Regions from separate parts of the Homo sapiens genome. Here regions 1, 3 and 4 are each reported to be linked to region 2. Evidence: microRNA targets listed by miRTarBase, many of them from high-throughput screens and not tested one by one. Region 2 holds a microRNA gene; each other region holds the end of a gene's coding sequence. Distances are from middle to middle.
Evidence for each region. The annotated mature microRNA hsa-miR-4756-5p reads CAGGGAGGCGCUCACUCUCUGCU and lies in region 2 at 4,860-4,882, shown strand. An mRNA with a match to its seed (bases 2 to 7 or 8) in the 3' UTR can be bound and repressed. Matches are read on the target gene's strand: a 7mer-m8 pairs with bases 2 to 8, a 7mer-A1 pairs with bases 2 to 7 and ends in A, and an 8mer does both.

Region 1 (5,769 bases), 50 Mb from region 2:
CAGATCGCTGAAAAGGAGCAGGAGCTGTTGGCCTCTCAAGAGACCGTGCAGGTGAGGGGTCTAGGAAGGCTGCGGGTGGGGGCTCGCGGCCAGCAGAGGCCGGGCAGGAGGGAGCAGACCGCCAGGCTTGACGCCTGCGCGGTGCGGCTTAGGTCCTGCAGATGAAGGTAAGGCGCCTGGAGCACCTGCTCCAGCTCAAGAATGTGCGGATCGAAGACCTCTCCCGGCGGCTCCAGCAGGCGGAGCGTAAGCAGCGGTGAGCGGCGGCCCGGGCCGCGCGGGGACGCCCGGGTACCCGCCAGAGCCCCGACGCCGCGCCGGACCCACCCACCGATGGATAGACCATTGGGAGGGCGGAGCCCGCTGCTCTCACGAGCCTGCTGGGGCCCGAGTGCCCTCCTTCCTTGGGATGGGTGAGCGTGGGAGGAGATGGGACAGGAACTCTAGGAGCGCAGGCCCGGGACTGAGCCGCCTCCTACCACTCCGGAGATCCGGGTCAGGAGAATGGACCGCTTTCCAGAGCCCAGAAGCCACGTGCAGAGACCTAGCCTGTCCCCCAAAGCAGTGTCCAACACCTTGGGCCCGGCCTTGCATCTCCCGGCGCTGGGCCTTGGGGGGCGGTCCCTTGGCTCTGTCCACACCCCCAGAATCAGGTCCCCGCCCAGCTCCGAGGACGGCGGCGTCTCCATCCAGGCTAGTTCCCCATGCCCTCAGCCATGGGGGAATCTGTCCCGGGCCGCTGAGGGGCTCCCCTGCCCCTCCTGGGAGCTTACCTGGGACCCACCTCGGCGACGGAGACCGCAGCAGCTGGAGAGGAAGGGGTGAGGCGTGGGATCGCCAGGAGTAGGGAGGACATCGACGATGTGCCCGTAGCAGTCGCCCCTCCCTCCTCGCGCACGGGGTACTGAGGCGGAAGGTTTGAAGGTTACGGCTCAGGGCTGCCCCATTAAAGTCAGTGTTGTGTTCTATTTCCTGTGCCTGCCTTCTCTTTTTGCATCTGAGGGGAGCCAGTTTCTTCTTCACTTGTCCTCCATCTCCCCACCCCCGCCTTGAGTGAAAGAGCTTTCTGGACCCAGAGTGGATCTCATCTTGTGGGTGGCTGGGTCCTGTGCGGCCACAGCTTGGTAGGTTGATGATATCACCAGGGGTCAGGTTTTGCACAGGATGACAGCCTAACTTCTAACCCTGGCCTTAGATTGACCCCCAAACCCACCCTCACAGTGTTCTCCAACCTTGTCCAAACCCAACCCCAAACCAGACTTCAAATTGTTCCCAAATGTGGCCACACACTCACCCTCAACCCTACGTAAGGACTGACCCCTAACTCGGCCCTCTGTACGACTCCAACCCTGCCCACAGACAATCCCAACTTCCATGGATTGAGGCCAGGCTTTACTCCCAACCCTGGCCAACACACTACAGCCATGGCATGACCCTAACTTTAATGGTTTTCTGACTACCAGTAATGTGGAACATTTGTAAATCCTGAGATCCAGCTGGGCATGGTGGCTCAGGCCTGTAATCCCACCACTTTGGGAGGCCAAGGCAGGTGGGTCACTTGAGGCCAGGAGTTCAAGACCAGCCTGGCCAATGGTGAAAACCCATCTCTATTAAAAATACGAACAATTAGCCAGGCGTGGTGGCGGGCACCTGTAGTCCCAGCTACTTGGGAAGCTGAGGCAGGAGAATTGCTTGAAGCTGGGGGGCAGAGGTTGCAGTGAGCCAAGATCGCACCACTGCACTCCAGCCTAGGCAACAGAAGGACACTCTGTCTCAAAACAAAACAAACATCCTGAGATCTAACAATTCCATTCCTAGGCATATACCCAGCACATACCCAAGGGAAACCTAGGCTCTTGTGTTCTGTGTTCTGGGAGACATGTTACAACAACGTTCATAGCAACACTCTTTTTGTTTGGTTTTGTTTTTTTTAAAATGGAGTCTTGCTCTGTCGTCCAGGCTGGAGTGCAATTGCACGATCTCGGCTCACTGCAACCTCCACCTCCTGAGTTCAAGCGATTCTCCTGCCTGAGCCTCTCAAGTATGTGAGATTACAGGTGCATGCCACCACATCTGGCTAATTTTTTATATTTTTGGTAGAGACAGGTTTCACCATGTTGGCTAGGCTGGCCTCGAACTCCTGACCTCAAGTGATCCACCTGCCTTGGCCTCCAAAAGTGCTGGGATTACAGGCGTGAGCCACCATGCCTGGCCCACAGAAACACTCTTTGTAATAGCAAAAGAAATGAAAAGAACCTGTATACATTATCTCTTACTGTGTAGCAAATTATCACCAATGTAGCAGCTTAGAACAACAAATACTTATTATTATATCTCACATTTTCTGTGGGTCAAGAGTCCAGGCCAGGCTTGGCTGGGTCCTCCACTTCAATGTTTCCTACAAGGCTGCAAGCAAAGGGCCAATAGAACTGCAGTCTCATCTGAAGGCACAACTGAGGAAGGATCCAGGCTTCCAGGCTTACTTGGTTGCTGACTGAATTTACTTCCTAGTGGGCTGTCAAACTGAAAGCTTCAGTGTTTTACTCATTGTTGGCCAATAGCCACTCTCATTTCCTTGACACATAGCCATCTCCAGTATGGTAGCTTACTTCATCAAAGACAGGAAAGGAGAGAGTTGATAGAGTCTATTACCAACAAGGGAGTTACAGGCCTGGTGCTGTGGCAGAGGTGCACTTCTCAGAGACAGACTTAGCTATATCTGGATACCAGGAGCAGAAGCCTCAAAGAGGAAGAACCATCAGGACCTGGCCCAGCCTTTGCCATGTAGGAGGCCAATAGGTGAGGTCGTGATACCAGCCATCAAACCTGTCTTCTGGGCCCACAGTGCTACTGCTAAGGCAGAACTGTTAGCCTGCCCTGTCTCCTGGTCCTCGGGCCACTCCATCAGCCATTCCTACTATCTTTACATATAGCAGCCTACAGGTGAGGTTACATGGATAAAAGTTTCAGGGAATAGAACTCCGGGGGCCTATTGCAGACTATGGAGAGATCGTGGTGCTATAGCAAGGGTCAGTGTGTGTGAAGGGCTAACGGTTAGTTTGGGGCAAGTGGAGGGTCAGGTGGAGCCAGTGTTAAACTAAGACCAGGTGGAGTGCATGGATGGGGCTCAGAACAAGGTCAGGAGTAGTTGGCAATTTTTATTTCATTTATTATTGAATATTTTAAATATTACTGAATTGGACTAAATATAATCCTTGGTTCATGACACTCTCTCCCCATTTGTCCATAATCAACTCACTTATGAACACCTATAAATCCACCACCTGCCCCAAGAATGGAATTATTACAAATAACTTTCACCGGCCATGTGCTTCTTGCATCTCTCCCCCTTGCTTCCACTCAGAGATAACCACCATCCTAGATTTCATCCTTTCATTGCTTTTTCCTCCTTGTAGTAGACAGCTCCTAACGTGGCTCCCAGTAATCCCTGCCTCCTGGACGTCACCCCCATGTGTACCCTTTCCTTGAATGTAGGCTGGACTTAGTGACTTGCTTCTGATAAGTAGAATACAGCAAATGTGATAGGATGTCAACTTTTGTGATTACATTAGATAAGATTATAACTCCCTTATTTTTAATTTAATTTTTAAAAAATTTTTCTTTCTTTCTTTTTTTTTGTTTTGAGACAGAGTATTGCTCTGTCACCCAGGCTGGAGTGCAGTGGTATGATCTCGGCTCACTGCACTCTCCACTTCCCTGGTTCAAGTGATTCCTCTGTCTCAGCCTCCCAAGTAGCTGGGATTACAGGCACACGCCACCACACCCGGCTACTTTTTGTATTTTTAGTAGAGACGGGGTTCCACCATATTGGTCAGGCTGGTCTCAAACTCCTGACCTCAGGTGATCCACCAGCCTCGGCCTCCTAAAGTGCTGGGATTACAGCCGTGAGCCACCGCACCCAGCCCTAACTCCCTTCTTTTTTAGAGACAGGGTTTTACTCTGTCGCCCAGGCTGGAGTGCAGTGGCACAATCTTGGCTCACTGCAACCCCAGCCTCCCAAGTTCAAGCAATCTTTACACCTCAGCCTCTAGAATAGGTGGGAGGACAGGTGCATACCACCATATCCAGCTAATTTTTTTTTTTTATGAGATGTCTCACTCTGTCATCCAGGCTGGAGTGCAGCGGCATGATCTCGGCTCACTGCAACCTCTGCCTCCCAGGTTCAAGCTATTCTCCTGCCTCAGCCTCCTGAGTTGCTGGAATTACAGGCACCTGCCACTACGCCCAACTAATTTTTGTATCTTCAGTAGAGATGGTGTTTCACCATGTTGGCCTAGTTGGTCTCGAACTGCTAACCTCAGGTGATCCACCCACCTCGGCCTCCCAAAGTGCTGGGATTACAGGTGTGAGCCACTGCTCCTGGGCTTTTTTTTTTTTTTTTTTTTTTTTTTTTTTTGTAGAGACAGGATTTCGCTTTGTTACCCAGGCTGGTCTCCAACTCCTAGGTTCAAGTGAGCCTCTTGCCTCAGCCTCCCAAAATGCTGGGATTACATGTGTGAGCCACTGTGCCTGGCCCCTCTCCTCTCTCTAACCGACACTAAATCTGCTATCTTCTGGTTCATTCATTCGTTCTTTCCTCTATTTATTGAGTACCTACTATGTACTAAATACCAGGAATACAAAAGTGAGTATAAAACATGATTTGTTCCCTCCAGTGTTCACAACCCTACAGGAGAGGAAGGCATGCAAGGGTATTTAAACTTTGTTACTTAATGTTTTGAATAGATAAAACATATATATGATTTAAAAAAAACACATAAAAAGTGAAAAGTCTTCTTATTCCCAGCACATCTCTAATAGGGAACCTCTATCTTTAGTTTTTATGTATCCTTCCGGAATGACTTTATGTGACTATAAACAAACATGCACATTTGTCTTACTCTTATTTTTGAGAGAAGAGTCTTGTTTTGTCACCCTGGCTGGAGTGTAGTGGCACAATTTCAGTTAACTGCACCCTCCACCTCCTGGGTTCAAGTGATTCTCGTGCCTCGGCCTCCTGAGTAGCTGGGACTACAGGCTCATGCCACCATGCCCAGCTAATTTTTATGTATTTAGTAGAGGCAGGTTTCACCATGTTGACCCGAACACCTGAGCTCGAGTGAGCCGCCCGCCTCGGCCTCCCAAAGTGCTGGGAAAACAGGGGTAAACCACCGCACCCGGCTAAGGTTAACATTTAAATCAGCAGATGAGGCCGGGCACGGTGGCTCACGCCTGTAATCCCAGCACTTTGGGAGGCCGAGGCGGGCTAATCACCTGAGGTCAGGCATTCAAGACCAGCCTGGTCAACATGGCGAAACCCCGTCTCTACTAAAAATACAAAAATTAGCCGGGCGTGGTGGTGATTGCCTGTAACCCCAGCTACTCAGGAAGCTGAGGCAGGAGAATCGCTTGAACCCGGGAGGTGGAGGTTGCAGGGAACCAAGATCATGCCACGGCACTCCAGCCTGGGCAACAGAGTGAGAATCCATTTCAAAAACAAAAGGAAAAAAGAAAGAAATCAGCAGATGAGTGAAACAGATTTCCCTCTCTAATGTGAGTGGGCCACATCCAGTCAGTTGAGACCTAAATAGAAGAAAAAGGCTGGCCCTCCCCAAATAAGAGAGAATTTTTATTGCCTGGTGGTCTTTGAACTGGAACATCAGCTTTTTTCTCGCCTTTGGGATCAAACTGAAACATTGATTCTTCCTTGGTCTCAAACCTGCTGCCCTTTGGACTGGAGATACATCATTGACTTTCCTGGCTCTCAGG
Region 2 (8,126 bases):
TTGTTTTGCACTGGGTTCAGCAGATTATGTAGCCGGTCCTGCCTCATCACCACTCCTGACTACACCAGCTGATGCTTGGTGATGGTCTACAGTTTGCCAGACCCTTCATCACCACTCCTGACTACACCAGCTGATGCTTGGTGATGGTCTACAGTTTGCCAGACCCTTCATCACCACTCCTGACTACACCAGCTGATGCTTGGTGATGGTCTACAGTTTGCCAGACCCTTCATCACCACTCCTGACTACACCAGCTGATCCTTGGTAATGATCTACAGTTTGCCAGATCCTTCATCACCACTCCTGACTACACCAGCTGATGCTTGGTGATGGTCTACAGTTTGCCAGACCCTTCATCACCACTCCTGACTACACCAGCTGATCCTTGGTGATGATCTACAGTTTGCCAGATCCTTCATCACCACTCCTGACTACACCAGCTGATGCTTGATGATGGTCTACAGTTTGCCAGACCCTTCATCACCACTCCTGACTACACCAGCTGATCCTTGGTGATGATCTACAGTTTGCCAGATCCTTCATCACCACTCCTGACTACACCAGCTGATCTTTGGTGATGGTCTACAGTTTGCCAGACCCTTCATCACCACTCCTGACTACACCAGCTGATCCTTGGTGATGGTCTACAGTTTGCCAGATCCTTCATCAACACCCTTGACTACACCAGCTGATGCTTGGTGATGGTCTACGTTTTGCCAGACACACTGCTGAGTGCCCCCACCTGAATGATTTTTCTTAATCTCCTAAATCACTCATATCCCTAAACCTTATGTTTTTCTTCTGTAAAATGGGAGCAAAAGATCTTAATTTCACTGTGGACATAAATGAAATGGACGGATAAACACAAAAGGCTTTGCAAAGACTAATGCCATCCAAATGGCAGTTACTGCCATGTATAATTTAAAAGAGAGCAAGACAATGGGGAGTGTTAGCTCACGCCTATAATCCCAGCACTTTGGGAGACTGAGGCGGGTGGATCACTTGAGGTCAGGAGTTCCAGACCAGCCTGGCCAACATGGAGAAACCCCACCTCTACTAAAAATACAAAAATTAGCCAGGCATGGTGGTGCACACCTGTAGTCCCAGCTACTTAGGAGGCTGAGGCAACAGAATTGCTTGAACCTGGGAGGCAGAGGTTGCAGTGAGCCGAGATAACACCACTGCACTCCAGTCTGGATGACAAAGCAAGACTCCGTCTTAAAAAAAAAAAAAAAAAGAATGAACAAGTCCAATCAGCCAGGAGTTGCAGAGTACCTACTCTATCATAGAGGGATCCCCATCCTCGTTTTGCAGGGTGCCAGGAGTTGGGGATACAAGAATAGATGCAAAATAAACACAAAGGAGCACACAGCTGAGGGGGCTGACAGAGACTTAGGGAAGTACAGTAGCTTGCTCATAATTCCACAGCCGATCAGTAAGAATCAAGATCCGAGCCCTTGTCTGTCTCAACCCAGGGCCAGAGCTCAAGCTCCTGAGCCTCCAGGCTTGGGTCAGCACAGAGCGTGTGCATGGCAGCTGCTTAATAATTGGGTTTACTACATTCCAGATTGACATGTACAGTGCTGAGCTGGAATCGACTTTACAACCCTAATTACGGTGTGCCTGGTTGTGTATTCAGCATTTATTTAAATAGTATTTTTTTTCTTAAATGTTGATTTCTGAAAGAGGCCTTCCCCAGCTCTCTCTATTTCTCTCCCTTAGCTGCCTTGGCTTTTCTTTTATAATGAGAATCACACCCTGTAATTCTATGTTTATATTTACAGGATTCTATGTCCAATGACACTGAGTGCAAGAAGGGTAGAGACCCAGCATCTTTTACTCACCTCTTTAAACTCTGGCTTATATATATAGCCTGGTGCTTGACAAGTATTCATGATAGGGGTTAAGCTGAGTATACTGTTGAATAAAACCACAATAATTATTGGTCGCAATTCTCTTGAATGTCTTCTCCAGAGCACTAAGTAGTGTAACTTATCAAGTTTCCTTTCTTGCATTGGCTGTTAGGAAGCTCAAAGCCATATCTGCAAACCCTTCATAGCAAGTCTGTAAATCAACAAGAGCATTTATTTTTGATCCTGTTCTCATTTGATGTTCCAAATTTTGTTCTTCAATCTTCTTTTGTTACATGTTATTTCATGCTCTCATAATCTATTGTATATGTCCTTGTAAGACACTTTAAACAACATCCTTGCTTGAATTAAATAAATTGCATAGCCTGTCGAATTTCTGGCCTGCAAAGAAAAAGAATGCCCTTTCCAACATCATGGTATGTCTCCAGAGCAATAAACCACCCTCAGGTTACCTGATTTCTGGTGTCCAAACCCCTTTGGGAATAAGGTTTACATGACTAGGGGTAGTTGAGTGGATGAGAAGCTATTTCCTTCCAATTAGGTGGTTAGGTGGTGGTGGAGGTGGTGTTCTGAAGTCAGCAGACAGAACTACAAAATCTCACAGAACGTGTTTTCCCTGCTCTGACCATGACCTACGGTTACTGGGGAAGGAAACTGCTTCCCCAGGTCAACCCGGCAGCCTCAGTAGGTGAGGGGCACTGGGTAGAATACTTGGGGTGCCAGGGAGGCATTAATGCGAGAGGAGTCAGGTGCTCAGTTTTTATTGGAGTTGGGAGGGCAGCCCCACATCAGGAAGAGAACCTGTTTCTGCAGGATGGTCCGGGGAGAAGGGAGGACTCCACCCAGGCTTGTGTTTGCCCTGCTCTGTGTATTCAGCCAGCAGGCTCTGCACAAGGAAGCAAAGTGCAGGGAGCCAGGCTCCACCGACAGCCAGGCACTGGGCAGCACGCACTGGAGACCCAGGACCCTGTGCAGGAGCAGCTCCGGGTGACACGAGGGGACTGAAGATACTCCCACAGGGGCTCAGCAGGTAACTGCTTTCAGATCCTTTAGGCATGGCTGGAGGGTTTGCTGTTTGTGGTAGACGGTGTCATATAGAGGCCAGGGGTCAGACAGGGTCAAGTTTGATCCCAGCTCTGCCTTCTGTTCACTGTGTGGCCTTGGATATGTGTAAGCCTCAGTTCCACTATCTGTGAAATGGACCCAAAGATAGCACTCATCTCAAAGTTTTTAGTTTTACAAGGAGCAAATGACAATGTGGTCAGTGTTAGGCGCATAGCCACATAAATAACTCCTATTTGGTGGAACTATTGAGGGTCATTTCAAGCACAGGACATGGGGAGAAGTCACTGGATGGAGGGATAGGCTGTGTGATTTGGGGATCCGTCAGGGCAAGAATGCCCCATAGCCGAGTGGAATCTGAGCCTTCACCTCAGGCATTGCCTAAAGAAGTGGGAGGACAAGAAAAAGGACTTGTGGAGTGCCTTTTGTGAATCTTATTTAACGCTCAAGACCACCCTATGAGGCAGCTGCTGATTCAAATCCTGGCTTCAGGACCCCTGCTGTTTACATCTCCCTCTGAACCAGTTTCCTGCCTGGAAGAGTCATTGCGATTAGAATGCGGGTGCGCTGCAGCCACACCGCCAGATGCCAGCCCCAGCTCCACCCTGGGCTGGCTGGGTGCCCTGGAGCAGGTTCCCTCAGCCCTCTGGGCCTCAGTTTCCTCATCTGTAAAGTGAACCTAATAACAGTACTGAGATCAAAGGGCTGAGAGGACTCTACTGCCCGTAAATACCTGTGCACTTAGTAACTCTTAGCTGTGGTTCTTGTTTTCGCTGTTACCATCGTCTCCATTTTACAACTAGGAACATGAAGCTGGGTGAAGAGGGAGCTGCATCTGGTTCCAGGTCTCATGGAAAGGATGCTGTGGAACTGGAGTCCAGTCGGGCCTGGGATGAGGGTGCAGCCAGTGAGACTCTCACCTTGGGCACGAAATGTAAGGGATGCCAAAAAACTCAGTCATGGAGATAAACGGTATGTTAACACAACATTTTTAAAAGTCAGAATTAATGGCAAGACACCCGTGATGAACAAACTATGAACATGTTACAGAAAGATAAGATCAGGAACAGCGGTAATTTTGATTTTCACAAATTTCATGTTAAAATACTATTCATCTCCATGGCTGAGCTTTTTGGTGTCCCTTACATTGTTCCCCCGGAGTCCAGGGCCTGATCCGCCTCAGCCTCCTGGGGATCCTGAGCTGATCACAGCAGCTTCAGGCCCTGGGTGTATATACTCAGGGTATGTAGAGGGTGCTTCCTCCTAAATAAAGACAACAGACGGGGCGGGGCATGCTAAAGTAGTTTCTCATTTAAGTGAGGGTGGGGGAACAAACCAATGTCCCAAATCACAGAAGATTCTTTTTTTCCAAAGAGTTCTGGAACCCAGAAGGGTTTTGTTTTTAGGAAAAAGGCATGAGCTTTGGGAAAAGCAATGGGCCCGTTAAAGCCCATGGATTCTGCCTGCTTTACCATGACAAGAGATGTGGAGGGAGAGGAATTGAAAAAGGCTTTGGGTTGGGGGCGGGGGTACCTTTGCACCTTGCAGGCTCATCTGTCCTGCTGGAGTATTAGATGTGACTTGATTGTCTCTGTGTCTGCAGCTTCTCTTCAAGCCAAGTGCCCTGCCCTGAAGCAGTTCAGGATTTGAGTGCCTGAGTCACGTGGACCCAGGTTCAAACCCCAGGTGTGCCTCCCCGTAGCTTTCTGACTGCTACTCTTGGGCAAGTAGGACTAGTAAGGTGCCTACCCTCATGGAGGTGACGTTCGTGAGATGAGGGGATGGCATTGCTCAGCCTTGGTTTCTTTATCTGTGCAATCAGGGAATAATGGGACTCTGCAAGGGAAAAGGAGACAATGTGTGTGAAGTGCCTGGCACCAGGGTCAGGGCAAGGGTGAAGCCAGTGAGCACCTGGGGGATAAAATGCAGGGAGGCGCTCACTCTCTGCTGCCGATTCTGCACCAGAGATGGTTGCCTTCCTATATTTTGTGTCCTGCTATGCTCACCCTGGTGCTGCCTGGCACATAGTAAGCCTCCAATTAAAATTACCTGCGATTATCATGCACTTAACAATGTTTGGTGCAATAATAAGACTATGAGAGCGAGCTCTAAGATTTTTAGGATTACCATCCGTTTGTGCAAACATAATTAAGTACTCCGAAAGCAAAACATCAATCACCAAGCAGCCCTAAAACATCCAAGGTGATTTTGATCAAGGCACCCCTGCCCCTGGACCCACAAAGTCCCATACCAGGAATCAGGGCTTGGGCAGTTCAGTGAGGACTGGATTTCAGTTCCCTGTGTCCCCTTGTACAGGAGGCAACCTGTAGCACTGTACCTGGCACTCCTGATAATAGCTGCCGTGTTCCTAGCACTGTGCGGGCACACACATGGAGCTGCAGGACTGTGGGGCAGGCAAAGCGGGGTTGTTCTTTCCTCCTGCAAGGTCTTTACTGATGTTGGGGGCAGAGGGCTGGTTCTGCTGGGTGTGCCAGCCTGGCCATGTTGGCGTCACCCTCAGCTGAGCAGTGAGGAGGGCCCCTGGGTTACCTACATTCCATTGCATTGATCGAAGGTGTTGCTTGTTTACTTGGTGACTAATTCTGTCACCATTCCACCCTTCAAAACCACCCCCCCTCCCATTCAACAGTCGTCTAGCTGCCTGCTGGTGATGAAGTTTCAGAAGTGCTTTCTCCAGGCCAGCTTGCATGGGGTTTGGCGTTTGGCCTGTTTCCAGGAGGAGGGCCTATTATTAATCTGTAACTACAAGGAGGCGACATGGACCATCAATCACTGTGTAAAAGAGGAGGGATTTGAGGGCAGCTTCCAGGAGGCCAATTCACTCATGGATCAGAACACAGAACTAACTCAATTATAACAATAATAAGATAAATGAATAATATTAGCAATAACTAACGTTTACTCACCTGAGTACTGCCAAGCCCTGGCGCTAAATCCTTACAGTGATTATCAGTGACCCTTCAATTGTTCAATCCTCACTTTATTTGATTTATTTATTTACTTATTGAGAGAGTTTCATTCTGTCGCTCAGGCTGGAGTGCAGCGGTGTGATCTCGGCTCACTGCAACCTCCGCTTCCTGGGTTCAAGCGATTCTCCTGCCTCAGCCTCCCAAGTAGCTGGGATTACAGGCATTGTGCCTCCACATCTGGCTAATTTTTGTATTTTTAGTAGAGACAGGGTTGCGCCATGTTGGCCAGGATGGTCTCAAACACCTGACCTCAAGTGATCCACCCACCTCAGCCTCCCAAACTGCTGGGATTACAGGCATGAGCCACAGCGCCCGGCCTAATCCTCACTTTAGATTGTACCATATATATTCCTTGCCTAGTTATAATTTTCTCATTGCAAGAATGAATATGCAGGAAATATTTTCTATTCCATGTTCTATTATATTACATATAAATATTTCATAAAACTATAACATCACTTATACAGCAGAAGAGACAGTAGAAAGTATGAAAATAGAAAAGTTAAAAGTCTAAACTCTGGACTTGAGTTTGCGAGGGTTAAGTCCTCATTCTCCCACTTACTAGAAGATGATCTGTATTAGTCAGCTTGGGCTGTGGTAACCAAAACACCACAGACTAGGTGGCTTAAACAACAGTCATTTTTGTTTTCTCATAGTTCTGGAGGCTGGAAGTCCAAGATCAAGGTTCTGGCCGATGCATTTCTGGTGAGACCACTCTTTCTGGCTAGCCAACAGCTGCCTTCTTGCTGTGTCCTCACACGGTTGAGAGAGAGACAGAGAGAGCTCTTTGGTGTCTCTTTTTATAATGACACTAATTCTATCAGATCAAGGTCCACCCTTCTGATTTCATTTAGCCTTGATTCCTTAGAGGCCACATTTCCAAATGCAGTCATATTGCACGTTAGGGCTTCAACACGAATCCAACACGAATTTTGGAAGGACACATTTCAATCCATAGCATGATCTTAAGTGAGGAGTTTAAGTTCCCTGGGCTCAGGTTCTGCATCTGTAAAATGGGGACAATAAAAATACCTGCCTCGGCCGGGCCCGGTGGCTCACGCCTGTAATCCCAGCACTTTGGGAGGCCAAGGCGGGCGGATCACGAGGTCAGGAGATCGAGACCATCCTGGCTAACACGGGGAAACCCCGTCTCTACCAAAAATACAAAAAATTAGCCGGGCGTGGTGGCAGGCGCCTGTAGTCCCAGCTACTCGGGAGACTGAGGCAGGAGAATGGTGTGAACCCGGGAGACGGAGCTTGCAGTGAGCCGAAATGGCGCCACTGCACTCCAGCCTGGGCGACAGAGCCAGACTTCGCCTCAAAAAAAAAAAAAGAAAAAAAATACCTGCCTCATCGGGTTCTGATAAGGAAGCTGTGAGTTAACACAGAGAAGCATTCAGAGCAATGGCTGGCATAAGGTAGGCGCTACAAAAATATTAGGTATTACTACTGCTAATGTATGGTCCATTTTATTTACTGCTTATACTAACAGCTTATCTCTATTCCTCAGCTGCTGTGCACCAGCCACCCAGTTATACAACACATGGGCCACACCCTTCTAATCTTCACAGGAGCTCCACGCAAGGAATCTATTATGGTCCTTCCCTCCACCCCTCACTTCTCAGACACGGAGCCAGGGCTTATGCATATGGCCAGGGTGAGCCAGAGGGGAGCCCAGGCAGAGGGCTTGCGCTATTTCACCACCACAGACGAATTTACTCACGTGCTTTTCAGAAATGCAGATCCCTAGGTGACACCTGGCTACAAACACGAGGAGAACATCCCCAAGTCCAGGCACTAGAGCAGGGCCCCTCAATATCAGCACTAGCGACCCTCAGCAAAGCAGACAATTCTTCGCTGGGGGAAGGGGGCGGTCCTTGGCATTGCAGGGTATGTAGCAGCGTCCCCAGCCTCTACCCACCGGATACCAGTGCACGCCCCCCAAAGCTGAACCGTGACTATCAAAACTGCATGCAGGCATTTCCAAATGCCCCTTCGGGGCCAAAATCGCTCCTGACTCCAGAAACGCTGTGCTCCACTTATTGTGAGGGAGAAACAAAGAACAGCATATTTCCAAGGAGAAAACGTTTAGCAAAGCAATGTAAGTCATCGAGGAATAGGACAAGATATCCAAAATATGAAATATAGATATATAGTCCTGGAAAATTGGTACCAAAATAAAATACCCTAAACATTGTAAATA
Region 3 (8,126 bases), not on the chromosome of region 2:
CAACCTCTTCGTATTTTGACAAGGTGTAGCAAGACTAATATAATGGGGCAGGACAGACACAACCATAGTATTTTTTTTTTTAAAGCAGGTGATGGAGAAAGGGTGGTTCTCCTGCCATTTGGTTGTGTGATTAGAAGACAGCCCTTTGTCACACAGTTGTCGGCCTGCCTGTGATATTCCCGGCTATGGCCAAGATGTGTGAGGTAAGCCCCGGGTTCCTCCCACTTCCGTGTATTCCTGAGGACTCTGCTTTCCCACACTGAGTTTTGCATCTTCTCACAGGGAATTTCTATGGCTTCTCTGTACTTTGCTAATTATATGCACATTAATCATGGTGACCTGGTTACAGGCTATGGTTTCAAGAGAAGATAAAGTTCCCAATTGGTATCTGATGGGCAAAACAGGTACAGATGGACCCCCTGGGCTTTGCCCCTGTTGAGCTCATGATCACTACTAACCACCCCCCAGATGCTGGGCCACTGGCACTCTATCAGCTGCCCTATACATGGGTCTGGGCTGCTAGAGGTACCTGGTCTTCCAGTGGTCCCTTCAACAGTCCCTTTCCTGTGGCCAGTCTGCCCTAAGCAAGTTTTCTAACCTCTAGCCTTGTTGCATGGACTAGTAGTGGGCACTGACCGTCACTTTCAAGACCAAACAGTATCAGTGTTTGTTGCTAATACTAAGTGTGTCTGGAGGCTGGGTGTGGTGGCTCAGACTTATAATCCCAGCACTTTGGGAGGCCATGGTGGGAGAAGCTCAGGAGTCTGAGACCAGCATGGGCAAAATAGTGAGAGCCCGTCTTTAGGGGGGTGAAAAAAAAGTGGGCTTATTTGATGGAATTGCTGAAGTGCTATAATCATCGCTGAATCGTCTACGTAACTCTGCAAGCAGAATTACTTCTATCTGATCCAAACTCTGCTTTTGGCAGAGGAAGGGAAACCATCTCACAGGAGAAGAGTGACTTGGACAAGATCTCCACAGGCTTCAAAGCTGGCCTTCTCTTTCCTTTGTGCCACAGTATGATTTAGGACTGATAGGGACCCTCCCACCAATGGCCTCATCTTTTTTTATTTGTTTCTTCTTCTAGCTGAGGCAAGAGTTGGGGAGATAGAGAAAAGAGAAAAACGACTAAGGTTGGCTTAAAGCTGTGGTGTGACCAGGAGTACAATCTACTCCCAGCGTATGAAACAGTTATTTCTTCTTCTTTCTTTTGGGGAGGGGCCAGATCAGGTGACCAGAACTATCTAAAGCCTGCAGGTCTTAGAAAACATGTTTTGGCTGTGCTTCACATTTTACTTTTTGTTTTTTGAGATGAAGTCTTGCTCTGTCACCCAGGCTGGAGTGCAGTGGCGCTCCACCGTTCATAGCAACCTCCACCGTTCACAGCAACCTCTGTCTCCTGGGTTCAAGGGATCTTCCCCCACCTCAGCCCCCAAAATAGCTACAGGCATGTGCCACCATGGCAGGCTAATTGTTCTATTTTTTTCTTAGAGATGGGGTCTCACTATATTGCTCAGGCTGGTCTCAAACTCCTGACCTCAAGCAATCCTTCTGCCTCGGCCTCCCAAAGTGCTGGGATTACAGGAATGAGCTGCCACGCCCAGCCACATTTTACTTTTTAAATGAAAATGAAAAGCCTAACAGGAATATTGACTCAGCAAGTTTTTATTATGCACCTGTGGGTTTGTGACGATGCCAAGGGATCAGAGGAACAAAGAGAGAGGATGTTGCTCAGATGGGGGTCTCAACCTCCAGAGCAAGGTGGACACAAAGCTCCAGCCAGCTGCCCAGCCCCTGGGGTGGGAGGGAAGGATCGAGGGGTAGCTGTTGTCAGATAAGGCCAAAGGTATCAGTGGCCAAAAGGGAGACAAAGATCTCCTGGGTGCAGCCTCCTCCACCACTGTGGTGAAGGGTGTTGGGCTGGAGGGTTGGCCGACCTCTCCTGAGAGCACGTTCCCCCTGCTGCTCCTGCTGCATGGCATCAACCTGGGTTTCAGTTACATTACCCAGGAGGATTTCCAAATCCAGAGGCAATGTGGCCTTCCATTTCCTGAGGTGCCTTGGTTGGCTCTGGATCAGTGGTGGGGACTCAAGAGACAGCCTCCCTGTGGCTTCCAGCCCCTCACATTCCCTTTGTCGCTTTCTCCTTCATGATGTGGTTTTACACAGAAAAACACTCTGGTAAGTAGAACAGTGTTCTTCTCTTGAGTCAGACGTCTGAAGCAGGAAGGTGAATAACCTTCCCAAGACCTTAGAGCTACAGAGAGAATCCTCAGCACAGGTAGGAGCACACAGGTAGGTGGGGTAAACGTGTACAGAGAGCCTGGCTTCTACTTGGAATTTTCCCCTCCCTTGGCCTTAAAAATCGGATTTCTCCCTTTTCCAGCTATGTTGATACAAGAGACAAACTATTTAGAAAGTAAAAGCCTCAACCGTTTATTTTGTGTTCAAAGTATAACCAAATGATTTTATTGCATTTACTGCTCCTGGGCATGCAGATGCATCTACACAGAAACAGCAGTTGTGGTTATAAAATCTTTTAACGAGTTTGGGGCAGAGGCTTTTTAATTATTTTTGAGACAGAGTCTCATTCTGTCACCTAGCTTGTGCAGTGGCATGATCTCGGCTTACTGCAACTTCTGCCTCCCAGACTCAAGCAATCCTCCCACCTCAGCCTCCAGAGTAGCTGGGACCGCAAACGTCAACACCACACCCAGCTAATTTTTTGCATTTTTGGTACAGACGGGGTTTTGCCATGTGGCCCAGGCTGGTGTCACTGAGCTAGGCAATCCACCCACCTTGGTTTCCCAAAGTGCTAGGATTACAGGTGTGAGCCACTGCACCCAGCCCAGAGTTTTCCTGATGTGAAAATTACGTGAGTGACAAGGAGCACCAGGAGCCTTGCCTGACTTACTGTCTGTTGGTAGGATGTGACATATGAATAATACAAAATACCCGTCTGGTTTGACTTGCAGATTAAATCACTGCTAGACTACAGCCTTGATGCCCTCTCTTGCTGACCCTAGCCAACATAACCAGTCTTCCAGGAACAATACCATGTTTTAAATTGCTTGAGGTTTCACTACCTGCTGTCACTCTCAGTCCGGAATCCCAGCAGGAGACACAGCTCCAGCTGGCCTGCCCAGCCCCCATCAGAAGGCAGGGAGGAAGGGGAATTTGTCAGCGTTTACGGCTATTGAGTATGATTCTTCCATGCAGAGGACACCTGCCCTAAATGCTGAAACTTGGGTCTGAACCCTGCCTTTGATGGAATTGTGAGCAAGCTCACTCAAGTTTGTATTGACTCATCTGTAAATTAGGAATGATATAGCATACCTCACGTTTATCTGGAGTCATGGGCTGAATGCTGTCCCTTTCAAATTCCGATGTTGAAGTCCCAACCTCTAGTACCTCAGAATGTGACCTTATTGGTAAACGGTTGCTGCGGATACAGATGAGGTTATACTGGAGTCGGTGGGATGGGCTCTAATCCGATATGACTGGTGTCCTTAAACAAAGGGAGGTTTGGAGACAGACACGCACACAGCAAGAGTGCCATGTGGAGATGAAGGCAGAGACTGGGTGACGCTTCCACACACCAAGGAATGGCAACTGCCAGCAAAGGCATGAAGCCGCTTCTCCCTCACAGCTCTCGGAAGGCACCAACTCTGAGGACACCCTGATCTTGGACGTGCACCTCCCAGAACTGTCAGGGAATACACTCCTGTTGTTCTAAGCCAGCCAGTGTTTGGACACACCAGCACTCCAAGCTAATGTATCTATCAAGTGTGTTGTCAGGCAAGGTTCTGTTCTGGAGCTTGGCTCACCCAGACAGGAGAACCCCTCACTGGGGGCAGAGCTCCACATTCCTAGACAGGACAGATTGGAAGAAGGGACTTAAGTGCCTTTTAAACGATGACAACTCCGCTTCCAACCCACAAGCATTTACCAAGGATCTTTGGGGTATAAAGACATTATGGGGTAGGTGTGCAACACAAATTAAAATGTAAGCTTTGTTTTTGGTGAGCTCCAGATCCCTAGTGATTGGCCCCCAGGAAAATCAACAGGTATGACGACTGTTTCCAAACCTCAAGAAGGAGCTCTGCAGACCCCTGCCACAGAGGCCAGCCCAAAAGGGCTGCCTGATCATCTTGGATCTGCGGGGTGCTCCTGCCTACCTGATGGCCACGAATCTGGGGCTCAGACATGACATGTCTGGCTCAGTGTGCCTGGCCCTGCTCCCCACTGAGCCCATCAGTCCCACCCTGCCTTCTTCTTTCCTCTAGTCCAACATCCGCCAGCAGCTTCTCAGTGGAAGTGCAGGCATCCTGGAGCTTCAGGAGCAGATCCTAGCGTTCAGACAGGGAAGGAGGGGAGGGAGTATACTGAGGTTTGGCTGGTGACCAGGGTGCCGCCCTGACGGGGGATAGCCCAGTTTTACTCCCCGAGCTTGGGGAGCATGGGCCAAGGGTCTCTAAGACGCAGAACACCTGGCATGTCCAACCTGGTGATGGCACATCCCCCCCGTTTTTTGGCACAGCAGAAACAGAACACTCACTTGGCCACTCTTTCATTACCTGGGGGAGGGAGAGTGCTCCCATGGCACCACCCGAACGCTCACTACCTGAGAGCAAGGACAGGAGGGAGGTGTGCTCTCTATCCTGGGGAAGGTATGTCCTGGGTGGGGGCGCTGATCAGTACCAAGGTGAGGGGGCAGCACCAGCCAGGGTGAGGCCGCCCCAGGCGGAGAGGCTCAGTAGGAGTTCAGAGCCTGCTTGGAACGGCGCTTCATGTGCAGGCGCTCGTGGCGGAGGAGGTCATAGTTCTGCGTGAAGCTCTTGACGCAGTACCGGCACTGGAAGGGCCGGGCTTTGTCCTTCAGGTGAAAGTGGCTGCGGTGCCGAGCCAGGTGGTCGTGCCGCTGGAAGGCCTTCCCACACTCACAGCACTGGAAGCTCAGTTTGGCCTTGCCGTTTTCCAGCGGCTCTTTGGGACCCTTGTCCGCGTCCTCGGATGCCGCCTGCTCTCTCTTCTCCACCGGCTGGAGTCTGTCCGGCTGCAGGTGTATCCGCCGGTGGGAGAGCAGGTGGGAGTTCAGGCGGAAGCTCTTCCCGCAGGCACCACACCGGTAAGGCTTCTGGGCCTCGTGGCTCTCTAGGTGCCCATCCAGGTCCTCGCTGTCGCTGAACAGCTCCCCGCACACCGAGCACTCGTGCGGCTTCTCCTGCTCCCTGCGGCTCCGCAGATGCCGGATGAAGTTGACCCTCCAGCGGAAGATTTTCCCACAGTTCGGACACACGTAGGACTTCTTGGAGGTCTGCACCTCGCCTCCGGCCTCGGTGCTGCTCCGGTGGGAGGCGGGGAGGCTGCGCTGCTTCTCTGTGGGGCTCCCCAGCTCTTCTGTGCAGTACGGGCCATGCTGGGAGTCCTCGTCCCCAGAGCTGGAGAGAACGATCTCGATGGTCACTTCTTCATCCAGGCTGTTCTCTAGAGATCGCGGGTTGCCGCCAGCTACAGGAAGGCAACATGCAGGTCAGCGACGCTGCACAGGCCACATCCCAGCCCCTATGACCGCGGCGGAGGAACACTCAGCTTGGAGTTTACAAACCCGTGTTTTTACAATGGTCCTCGGTGACCGGGGCGGCCTGGCCAGCCCTGCAGGGGCCACTGGTGTAGCCTGTGAGGAAGAAATCTTCAGCATGGGCCCCGCTGTGTCCAGAGCATGCTGGGCACCTTGCTCTCCCTCTTCCCAGCCATTTTCCCTTATCTCCACCCCCAACCCTTTTGTTCTCTACCCACGGAGACCACCCCATCCCCCCAAGCTCTAGGAGTCTGTATTTATCTGGGTAAAGCCTTGACCATTTACAGATCATGCACTTAACAAGGCATGGGGGAAAGCTCTATCAGGATAGTGAAAGGACTTGAGAGAGGAAGACTCTACAACCTACACATATCATGTGCTGGGCACTTGCATGCTCCAGGGACTGTGCTAGACTTGACATGCACATTCCTATTTGCTCCTGGACGCAACCCGATGACCTATTGGTTGCCATGTTTACACATAAACTAAGGTGATCTGTGCCAGGAAGGAGGGCTGAAATGCTACTCAGCCTTGCTAGGCTGCTCAACAGTCCCAGACTGCCCAGAGTCCTGGGTCCCCCACAGCTCCCCGGCTCCCAGTAGCACCGCATTTCTGAGGCCACAGGTGGTGATGGATAAAGCTGCTCTGGACTTCCTGCATCCTGAGTCTGTGATGTTGGGAAGGTGGAACCACGGGGCGGGGCTGGGTGGACAGTGCAGAGCCCGGCCTGAGGTCCCGGCTTATGGAGCAGAGCCCACCATACAGGTGGCCTGTTTCCTCACTGCTGTGAAATGTAGAACTCAAATCTAGAACTTGGGGGGAGTGAACCAGGCCCTCCCAGATAAGAGTAGGAACATGGTTAGTCTGGGCTTCATGACTGTGGGGAGGAGAGCCCTGGCTAGTCAGAGCAGCTCAGGACAGGAGAAGTTGGACAAACAGAAGCAGGGCAGGAAGACACAGAGGCTATGGAGAGCAGAGAGATAAAGGGCAATGGTGGAAGCGGAGGGGGCATTTGTCCCTCAGTCACAAGGGGGTCGGGGGAACATGAGTCTGGGAGTGGGTACTGAGTCTGCCAAGAACCCACGTAGTATAGGAGGGAAATCATCAGATGAAGACAGAGATTGTGTTTGTGTGTGTGCATGTGTTTTTAATTTTTTGTACAGATGGGGTCACATTATGTTGCCCAGGCTGGTCTCAAACTCCTGGGCTCAAGCGAGCCACCCATCTCAGGTGATCCACCTGCCTCAGCCTCCCAAAGTGCTGGGATTACAGGTGTGAGCCACTGCGCCCGCCGAGAGGCTATGTTTGACGCTTATCTCGACTCTTGGTTTTCGAGCTGCAGGAACCTCGTTCCAGCCAGACAGCTTCTCTGAGCTTGGGTCATCTCGTCTACAAGGTGAGAATGACAGTGGCAGCCCGTTGCTCTAAGCTGCTGGTGGGGCAGGTGAGGTCATGTGTATGATGTACTTTGTGGACCTCATGGGGTGGAGACAAGAGCAAGGTGTAACTTTTACCAGGCTGCCGATGACAAGGTACTTGATCAGCAGTTGACTTCTGTTAATGGACTTGGGTGGAAGAAGAAAACAAAGTGACAAGGTGGACCGCTAAGATCTCTTACTTGTTAACTGGGCGAGGAGATGGAATTATGAGAGCAGACAGTGCATGTTATGGGCGAAATTGTGTCCCCCTGAAAATTTACATGATGAAGCCCTAACCCATAGAGCCTCAGAATGTGATTACTTGGAGATAGGGTCTTTCAAGAAGTAATTAAGTCAAAATGAAGTCAGATGGTGGGGCCAATCCAAAATCACTGGTCTTCTAAGAGGAGGAGACTGGAGGCAGACTTCAACAGAGGGAAGGACCCTGTGAGGACACAGCAAGATGGGAGCCGTCTCCAAGACGAGAAAGGCCTTGGAAGACACCAGCTCTGCTGAAGCCTTGATTCTGGACTTGTTGCTTCTGGAATTGTAAGAAAGTAAGTTTCTGTTGTTTAAGTCACCCAGCCTGTGGTACCTTGTTATGGTAGCCACAGTAGACTAACATAGACTTTGGCACCAGGAAGTAGGGTGCAGCTAAAACAAAGACCAAAAACTGTCGAAGTGATTTTAGAACTAGGTCATGGGGAGAGGCCAGGAGAGTTCTGAAGTGCATGTTTAAAAAGCCTTGAGGAAGTGGCTGGTAGAAATACGGACGTTATAGGAAATTGGAGAAAAGGAGATCCTCCAATTATAAAGTGGCAAAGAATTTGGCCAAACCATATTCAACTGTTCTGTGGAAACAGAAATTGTAAGTAAGGAACTCGGATACTGAGCTGAGGAGGTATCGAAGCAAAGTGTCAAAGGCAAAGACTAGTTTTTTGCCGCTTATAGTGAAACGTGAGATGAGAGAGATAAACTGAAGAAGGAATTGTTGTAGCAAAAAGGAACCATGACTTCAAGATTTGGAAAATTCTGTCTATCCATACGGCAAAAAATAAGAAAGCGTGCACTGGAGAGACACCAAGAGTGTGGCTGGCTCATCATTTGTTAAAGAGATTCTGGGTATG
Region 4 (8,126 bases), not on the chromosome of region 2:
CAAAGGAAGCAATGAAGTTACTTGACAAACTATTGACAGGATGTCTAGTTCAAAATAGAATCTTCATTGAGGCTAACTGTAGCACAGTATGTGATACATAAACAAAATTCAAATATTAAAATTCTAAATAAAAAAATTTTCCCCGCTAGTATAAAGTAGAAGTTCTATAGTGGAAATAACAATGAAAACAGATGAAAAATCAGTGAAGAAATAGAGGGAGGTACTACTAAAATTTTGTGTTTGAGAGGAAAAAGAGAAAGGTAAAAAATAATTCTGGGAATATTTAAATCAGTAATTGAATACATGTAGTGATGTCTTTAAAGCACCTTCAAGAAAGACCTCTTTCATTTTGGATGACAATACATTAGGATAAATGAAATATGTGAATATGGCAATTTTCCATAAAAACAAAGGAGACTATGGAGACTGTCTGGTTCCTGATTTGGCCATACAAAATATAGAAAATTCAAGTGACCCAGGTTCCACAGTCCCAATTCTGTCAAATTCCGATCCAACAATTTGTAAAATGGATAACATCTGTATACTTCCACTGTATATGAAAAAGAATGAGCAGCTCATAGGGCTACTTAAAAAAAAAAATGGCCAAGGTGAATATATAGTCATTTATTTGTGCAAAAATGCCAAAGAAATGCTGAGATGTCTTCTGTAAAAAACAGTAAATTACTGGTTTTACCTATCCCTAACCCTTATTTTTGACACAACTATCTAAAATGTTCACTAGTTAACCAAACATTTACTCAGCATGTGAATCCATGCTAAGTTTGAGGATAAAAGGATGCAGAAGAGAAAGATATTCTTTATTACAAGCTTTCCAACATCATGATCAAAATTACAAATAATTTTCAAGGCTGTTGTAAGAAGTCAACATTAAATGTTAAGTTTAAGCATAGATTACTACTATTTATGAAACAGATTTCTTCCTTTTGAAAGGTGTGTATAAAATGTGATGTAAATCAAATCTACTTATCCTTCTCCTGCAGTGCAAAATTACTTGTACTTTTGGGGAAGATAATTCCCTAATAAACTAAATTAAGGTCTCTTGGATAGAAATTCAGTTTCTCTCTTCATACAGCCACAAAGGGTACTATCTTTTCATTCAGTCCCTTAAGCAGCTTACTCTTCAATGCCAACAAAACTTTATTTTTTAAATAGTCTTAAAAGTGCTTAAGGGAGTTCTGGTTCCTCTTTTTAGCCTGCACAGTTTAAGATCAATGGTAAAGGTAGGAAATAATCATAAGGGCACTGGAAGAAGGAATGAGTCTAAATAATGTATAATGACTGTTCCGCCATACCAATTTTGTCATGGTGATTATTCACTAATTTTATAGGAGAGTGTATTGAGATCTGCTACAGCTTCTTGGATCTTTGAAGCACTGCTGAATTACATACACAAAGCAGAGCAGATGTCAGCACCTGATTAATCAGTACTCTACTACTGGCTAGATTCCCCAGGCAAGTCACTTAAATTATCTCCAAACAGCTTCCTCATCTGTAAAATAAGGATAAAAATTCCTTCCTCACAGAGATGTTATGAGAATTAGAGGAGATTTGAAAATGCTCCGTCAATCATAAAATCATGCAAAATTATTCCTTTGTAGAAATTTGAGGATTAAATGTAATAACATGAAGGCCACACTAACCGCCTGGCACATAAATACTTAATAAAAGTTATTCCCCATTCTCACTTTCTGTGTAATTTGCAGTTAGGAAATATAAATCAAAGACACCCTTGTCAGACTCACATCCATTTGGCTTTAACTAGAACTGTCCTTCCCTGCTCCTTTTCTTTTTTTTTTTTTTTTTTTTTTGGATACATAATCTTTCACTGTATTTGAGGCTATCTTGAGTCTCTGGTTGAGATCTGGGTCACTAAGGCTTCTGGGGGATCATGTCTTCAACAAGCCTTCCAATGAATGTCCAAAGAAAAACATATAATTTCCTTTTATTTTTTTTTTTACCAAAGTTCTTATGAATTGGAAAATAATTTGTTTCAAAGACGGTGATGAAAGGAAAAAAAAAGTTTAACTTTCCAAAGGTAATGCTTTCATGAAGAGTTAGAAATAGCAGTTTTAGTAATTAGTTGTAGGAATTCTGGTTAAGACTTCAACATTTTACCTTACTTAAAAGATTTGCTTTATGCAACATTTAATGCCCAGTTTTGCATGGCTCTAAAAATCTTTAAAATGCAAAAGCTTTTCCAGTGACTGGAAGCCAACACGACAAGAATGAAATGGTATGACCTGTGAATTAGCCTGGTTTATAAAAAAATACCAGTTCAGAGACCATAAACAAAATAAAGAAACTAAGCAATCCTTAAATTGGATTTAGCCTTGGGCAATTAGCAGAAAAATTCACTCATAAAAGGATCCATTTTACAGATATTGTTTTTTAAAATGTCAGGAACTGGTTTTATAAGAGTAAAAAAGTTAAAATTAATTGCATCTTCCATAAAGAATATGATGGAAATAATTATATACGAAAAATGAGACAATAAAAGTCCATTTATAAAGTGCCTTAATGTACCAAAAAAGGAGGTCAGATGTCCTTTATTTACAAATCATATTTAATCCCATTTACAGAAAGGCAAATATTACACTGGAGAGGCAGCATAATAGAGTATAAAGAACTCTCAACTTCGAGTCAGAAGATCTGAATCTTTTTGGCTTTGCCACTAATTTTCTCTGTGACTTTGAGCAAATGAGAGTTTTTCTGGGCTTCGGTTTTCTCATCTGTAAAATGAGAGGTAGAACTACACTGCTTCTAAAGCCAGTCCTTGCTTAGATGTAAAATTCTGTGTTAAGCAATGTAAATATGGTTCTTAAGTTTTGGAATTACATAACAGGGTTCTACCATATTAATAATCTCTGTAAAAACTGATTATTCCATAATAGGTAGGTAAAAACATTATAGAACTGTGATCAAATACATTTTGAGTTCATGATTTGGCTGCTGTACAAAGGTGCAAAAAAGGCATAGCATTTTGGTTACTGATATACACGTGTAGGTTTTCAGGAATGCTGACAAATTCCAGATATAAGGGAAATGACAGCACAAGGAACACTGACCTACAGATAAACTAGATACTGTCCTTCACAAAGATGCATGGGGAGTTAGCAAACTGAGGAAGCTGTGGATATGTTAAGCCCTTCATCTTGAGGAATATAATCTATGTTTAAAAAACCAAAGCTAGTGGCTGAGCACGGTGGCTCACACCTGTAGTCTCAGCACTTTGGGAGGCCGAGGCAGGAGGATGACCTGAGGTCAGGAGTCCAAGACCACCCTGGCCAACGTGGTGAAACCCTGTCTCTGCTAAAAACACAAAAATTAGCCGGGCGTGGTGGCGTGCACCTGTAATTCCAGTTACTCAGGGAGCTGAGACAGGAGAATCACTTGAACCCGGGAGGTGGAGGTTGCAGTGAGCTGAGACTGCGCCACTACACTCCAGCCTGGGCGACAAGAGTGAAATTCCATCTAATACAAACAAACAAAAAAAACAAAAAAACAAAACCAAAGATAGTATAGCTATATTTCTGTTTGGGAAGGTTTACCAGGCAAGGTAAACTGTCCCTGAGCAATACAAATTTGTTGTCCAGAGAATATTTTGGCTTTTAAAATATTGGCAAAGTTACACTCAGATACGAGTTTTGTTTGGTTTTTTTAAGAGTTAGCTCAATATCAGGGACATTGTAAATTAATTTTATAACAATAATCTGGTAGTATTTCTCATTGGAATTATCTACTTTAGTAATATACATGTGCCAAGAACACTAATAAGACAAAATATTTCCTAAGAGTGACAAAAAGTTGCTTTTTCTCACTAATTTTTTACTGCTGCACACATAGGTATACTGGCATTTAATTAAAGCATAAATGTTAATGCCAACTTGCTAAATGATATGCGCTGGCAATGTAATGTAACAAATGCAAATTCACATCAGTCTAACACTGTATAAACATACTCATGCATTTGTGTACTGATAGTACAGTCAAATAAAATGATTCATATTTTGACAAAAACTAAACTTGGAATGGAGGGCTCTGTGAAAGGCAGACTTGGGTCTTCAAATATCTCCGTATGTGAAATATCAGTATTTATACATAATCAGTTTTTAAAGGCACACATCCAAAAGCTCCCTTCATCTAGATCTGTCATTTTCTCTATCTAATATGCCAAAACCCACAGAATATCCCAGAGTTCTCTCAGACTTGGTGGTGGTTGCAAACTTCTAATGACTACTTATATTTGTAGAAAAACCAGTACCATTATCAGGACACTTCCTTTTGAACTTTCCTGCTTAAAAGACCTCAACAGTTGTTTTAAGCACATACTACTGCAGTAAATCATAGATTTCAAACCACCTGGCAGTAAGCAAACATGTTTAGAAAATGCCACTTTGCCTGCGGAAAAGAGACTATTGATAGAGTTCACGGCAATCTGCAGCAGTTTAGAAAAGAATGAAGAAAGTGGTCTAGTTCTCCTAATAGAGAGTAGTTTATAGTTGTAGGTCAGAAATAGGGGAAAAGACACTCTAAAACTTAGAATCAACAGGGATTTCTGCCACATCACTAAAAAGTACTTATTGATCTACATTCTTAATAATTGTTTCCATCCTGCAGGGTTTTTTCTCCCACATTTACAATTTTTTTAAGTTAAAAGGGAATATGTATTGTAAAATGAAGTATAAGGGAAAATCAGATCATTTTCTCTTCATAAAACACAGAGAATACTTAAGTAGAGTGCTCAAGCACTTATCTCGAATTGCAATTTTATTTTTCAAATACGTAAGAACCTAGAAAATCAACTCAGCACTTACTTCCTAGATACCTGTGTTAGGAAAAGTTCTACATCACCACATTTCCTCTGTACCTTTAATAATTCAAACTCAATAAAATGCTGCTTTAGGATTCCTGAAAGCAATTGTATTTGTGCAAAGCCTAAACAGGAAAACAAAGTGGATGACTTGGCATTTGAAGAATGAAAAAGCCAAACAGCACTGTCACAACCATTTCTGCCTTCAGTCTCCAATGCCTTTTTCTTTCATTATAAAATCCATAGAAATGGCAAGGAAAGATATAGGAAAGTTTATCACAGATACAGTAGCTATTACAGAAATTTGGAATTCAGCAGATGTTTTAAGTCAAAATTTTCTGTGTAACAGATGAATTTGCAAAGTTTTGAAAACACAGTCCACAAAGTAATTTAAAATGTGATAATTAAATTTGTTTTAAAAAGCAAATTAACACCTTTTATTTTCTGTGAAGATAAAACAATAAAAGAAAAATGTTCATATATCCAAACCTATGCTGGAAGTACACAAAAAGACAATTTGTATACATTACTGGCAATAGTCTTGTTTTGTACAGGATATTTTACAGAATATCCATTGTTAAAAAAAAAAAAAAAAAAAAAAAAAAACATAGCCGGGCGTGGTGGCTCACACCTGTAATCCCAGCACTTTGGGAGGCTGAGGTGGACGGATCACGAGGTCAAGAGATCAAGACCATCCTGGCCAACATGGTGAAACCCCATCTCTACTAAAAATGCAAAAATTAGCTGGGCATGGTGGCACACGCCCATAGTCGCAGCTACTCAGAAGGCTGAGGCAGGAGAATAGCTTGAACCCGGGAAGCAGAGGTTGCAGTGAGCTGAGATTATGCCACTGCACTCCAGCCTGGCTACAGAGCGAGACTCCATCTCAAAAAATAAAAAATAAAAACAAAAATAAAACATACATGACTCTTGATGGTACATTTCTATGCTGGCAAATACATTTTTGGATACAAAGGCACTTTGAAAACCCAATATGGTTTGGTTCATAAGTTTGCAAGGTACAAACAATTTAACAAACATGATTATACTGAAGAACGTCAACAATTATGACATTACGTATAGCACAGATTTCCAATTTCTTTCTTTTTTTAAAAAAAAGTAATACTGGTTTTGTGGGAATGAAAGCAGTGATTTCCAGCAGCTGCAGTGAAGACATTCCAGAAGACTGGAGGCCCACAACTGAAATTCTTACTGGCTGGGATGAGAGGATGGTGGTGTGGGCATTCAACATGAAAACAAACAAACAGAAAACAAAAACAAAAAAAGAAAGACAAAAGGACAAATTAACATCCTAAGCTAAAAACCTCAGAAGTCAAAAAGATTTGGAGGAAAGAGCACAAAAGAAAAGACCAAAAGTCCAGGAGATATCCTCTTAAATCTGATCCCTTAGCTGTGAACTCCCCACAAAGCATGAACGGCTGACTCTACCCCGTCTACTTAGTGCTCGGGAGTTGTAGTGATAATTTCTCTCTTTTAAAAAGCTGGGTACAATGTTTTGGATCGTACAGTACCAGAAAAATTTGGTCCATAAAAGGTGCATAATTTCTTTCCATTCACTACATGGCTGCAAAGTCAATCTGTACGTAGAGCTGTCTCACTCCAGCCTGAAAAGTAAGAAAAAAAAAAGTTAGAAAATCTAACAAGCTAATAACACCCTACACATTTCAGGAAAGTATTTTTTTTCTTTTACAAATCTCACTTTTTTAAAAAAAGAAAAGAATCATTTCAGAAACAAATATATTCATAAGCTACAAAAAATAATCTCCATTTACCACTACAAAAAAACAAACAAAAAAAAAAGAGCCATGTTAACAGTCACACACCCTATCCAGATATCCAGGTGATACTTAGAAAAATGCAGTTCACCTTCTACAGTTACTCTGTTAGAGGACACCATGATGCTTGACTGGTTGGCTCCTAGTTGAAATTGATACATCAACCCTGTCTAAATCCTCCTGTGATAAATGATTAGTAAACAATTTAGCAAGTATAACCATCTATTGGAATTATTTTGCACTCCAAGTTCTCTCTTCTGTTTTGGATATGAACTTGCTACTCAAGGATACTGCTCTCTAAATTCTCCCCAATATCTTCTGTATTATCAATTTACTTCCTCTCAACTAGATCACTTCTATTAGCATACAAACACACTGTAGCTGTTTCTATCTTTGAAAAAACCTCATGAGAAATTATCTTTTGGGTACAATGTACACTATTCAGGTGATAGTTGCACTAAAAGCCCAAACTTCACTACTACGCAATATATCCTAGTAACAAAACTGCACTTGTACCCCCTAAAGCTATTTAAAACAACAACAAAAAGCAACAAAAATCTTTACTTAACCCTACATCCCCTTCTGGGCTCCCCATCTCCGCTCTTCTTTACAGCAAAAAGCCTCAAAAGAGTTATCCATATTTGCTGTCTAAAATCCTTTTTCTCACTTCTCTCTTGAACTCATTTCAACCAATCTTTTGCTTCCCAACACTTCCCCCAAACTGTGTCCAGGTCACTTCCACATTGCTTACATTAATATCCAATTCTCAGGCCTCTTCTTCCTACTTCACCTATCAGCAATAATACAGATGGTCACTCCTGCCTATAGATATATATATTTTCCCTTTTGGCTTCCAGAGAATATTCACTGGCTGCCCTTTTACCTCACTTATCAGTCTTTCTCAGTCTTCTCTGCTAGTTCTTCCTCCTCTCTGAAAACTGAAATCGCCAAAGGCTAAAGAAAAAAATAAAGCTTGGTACAAGAGCTGGTAAATACCTCAGCACTCCCAGTAAACTTATCACCTTGCGATGTATTATACAACTTATTCACGGTGTTTATTGTTTATTATTGACCTCTCACTATAATATAATGTCTCCGAGATAAAGGATTTGGTCTTCTTCTTTACATTGCTGACTCCTAGAACCTCAAGTGAGAGCCAGCACACAGTAAGTGATCAATAAGTATTTGTTGAATTAACTAAAATTCTACTAATTTCCTTCTTTCAACCCAAAATGATCTATTTTTAATTAAAGGAACCCATTAGTCACAATAAGCCCTTTCTTCTCAGTACCACAGAATAAAAGGTAAATTGGAATATTTAATAGGAAAAAAATCAGAGTGAGGAAAAAATCTATTAGCACTACCTTCTTACAGTAATTTCTGGACTCCTCAAAGCACTGTTTCCTAGCTTGGCTTTTTTTCTAGAATTCAGGTAGGAGGGCTCTGTACAATACTGAGTGCTTGAAAGGATTCAGGAACTACTCGAATGGATAAAAGGC

Region 1: miRTarBase lists SPEF1 as a target of hsa-miR-4756-5p. Seed matches in the 3' UTR shown: 7mer-m8 at 882-888.
Region 3: the mRNA of ZNF496 is a reported target of hsa-miR-4756-5p. Seed matches in the 3' UTR shown: 7mer-m8 at 4,642-4,648, 7mer-m8 at 3,518-3,524 and 7mer-m8 at 3,162-3,168.
Region 4: miRTarBase lists SLC30A7 as a target of hsa-miR-4756-5p. Seed matches in the 3' UTR shown: 7mer-m8 at 215-221.

What each region holds. Positions count from the first base shown.
Region 1 is chr20:3,772,703-3,778,471 of GRCh38, reverse strand. SPEF1 (sperm flagellar 1) reads left to right here. Exons shown (of 7, transcript NM_015417.5): 6 at 1-51; 7 at 153-968. The coding sequence ends at 260. Among named protein-coding and RNA genes, the nearest start is that of SPEF1, 5.9 kb to the left of the region's middle. RefSeq lists an enhancer at 1-6 and a silencer at 142-391.
Region 2 is chr20:54,065,208-54,073,333 of GRCh38, reverse strand. MIR4756 (microRNA 4756) reads left to right here and starts at 4,849; the gene lies at 4,849-4,926. It overlaps BCAS1 (brain enriched myelin associated protein 1), which reads left to right and starts at 2,740. Exons shown (of 13, transcript NM_001366298.2): 1 at 2,740-2,901. RefSeq lists an enhancer at 3,147-4,021.
Region 3 is chr1:247,295,766-247,303,891 of GRCh38, forward strand. ZNF496 (zinc finger protein 496) reads right to left here. Exons shown (of 10, transcript NM_032752.3): 10 at 1,650-5,511. The coding sequence ends at 4,754. Among named protein-coding and RNA genes, the nearest start is that of ZNF496, 32 kb to the right of the region's middle. RefSeq lists enhancers at 3,158-4,057, 4,058-4,956.
Region 4 is chr1:100,973,140-100,981,265 of GRCh38, reverse strand. It overlaps SLC30A7 (solute carrier family 30 member 7), which reads right to left. Exons shown (of 11, transcript NM_133496.5): 11 at 1-6,456. The coding sequence ends at 6,409. Among named protein-coding and RNA genes, the nearest start is that of DPH5, 49 kb to the left of the region's middle.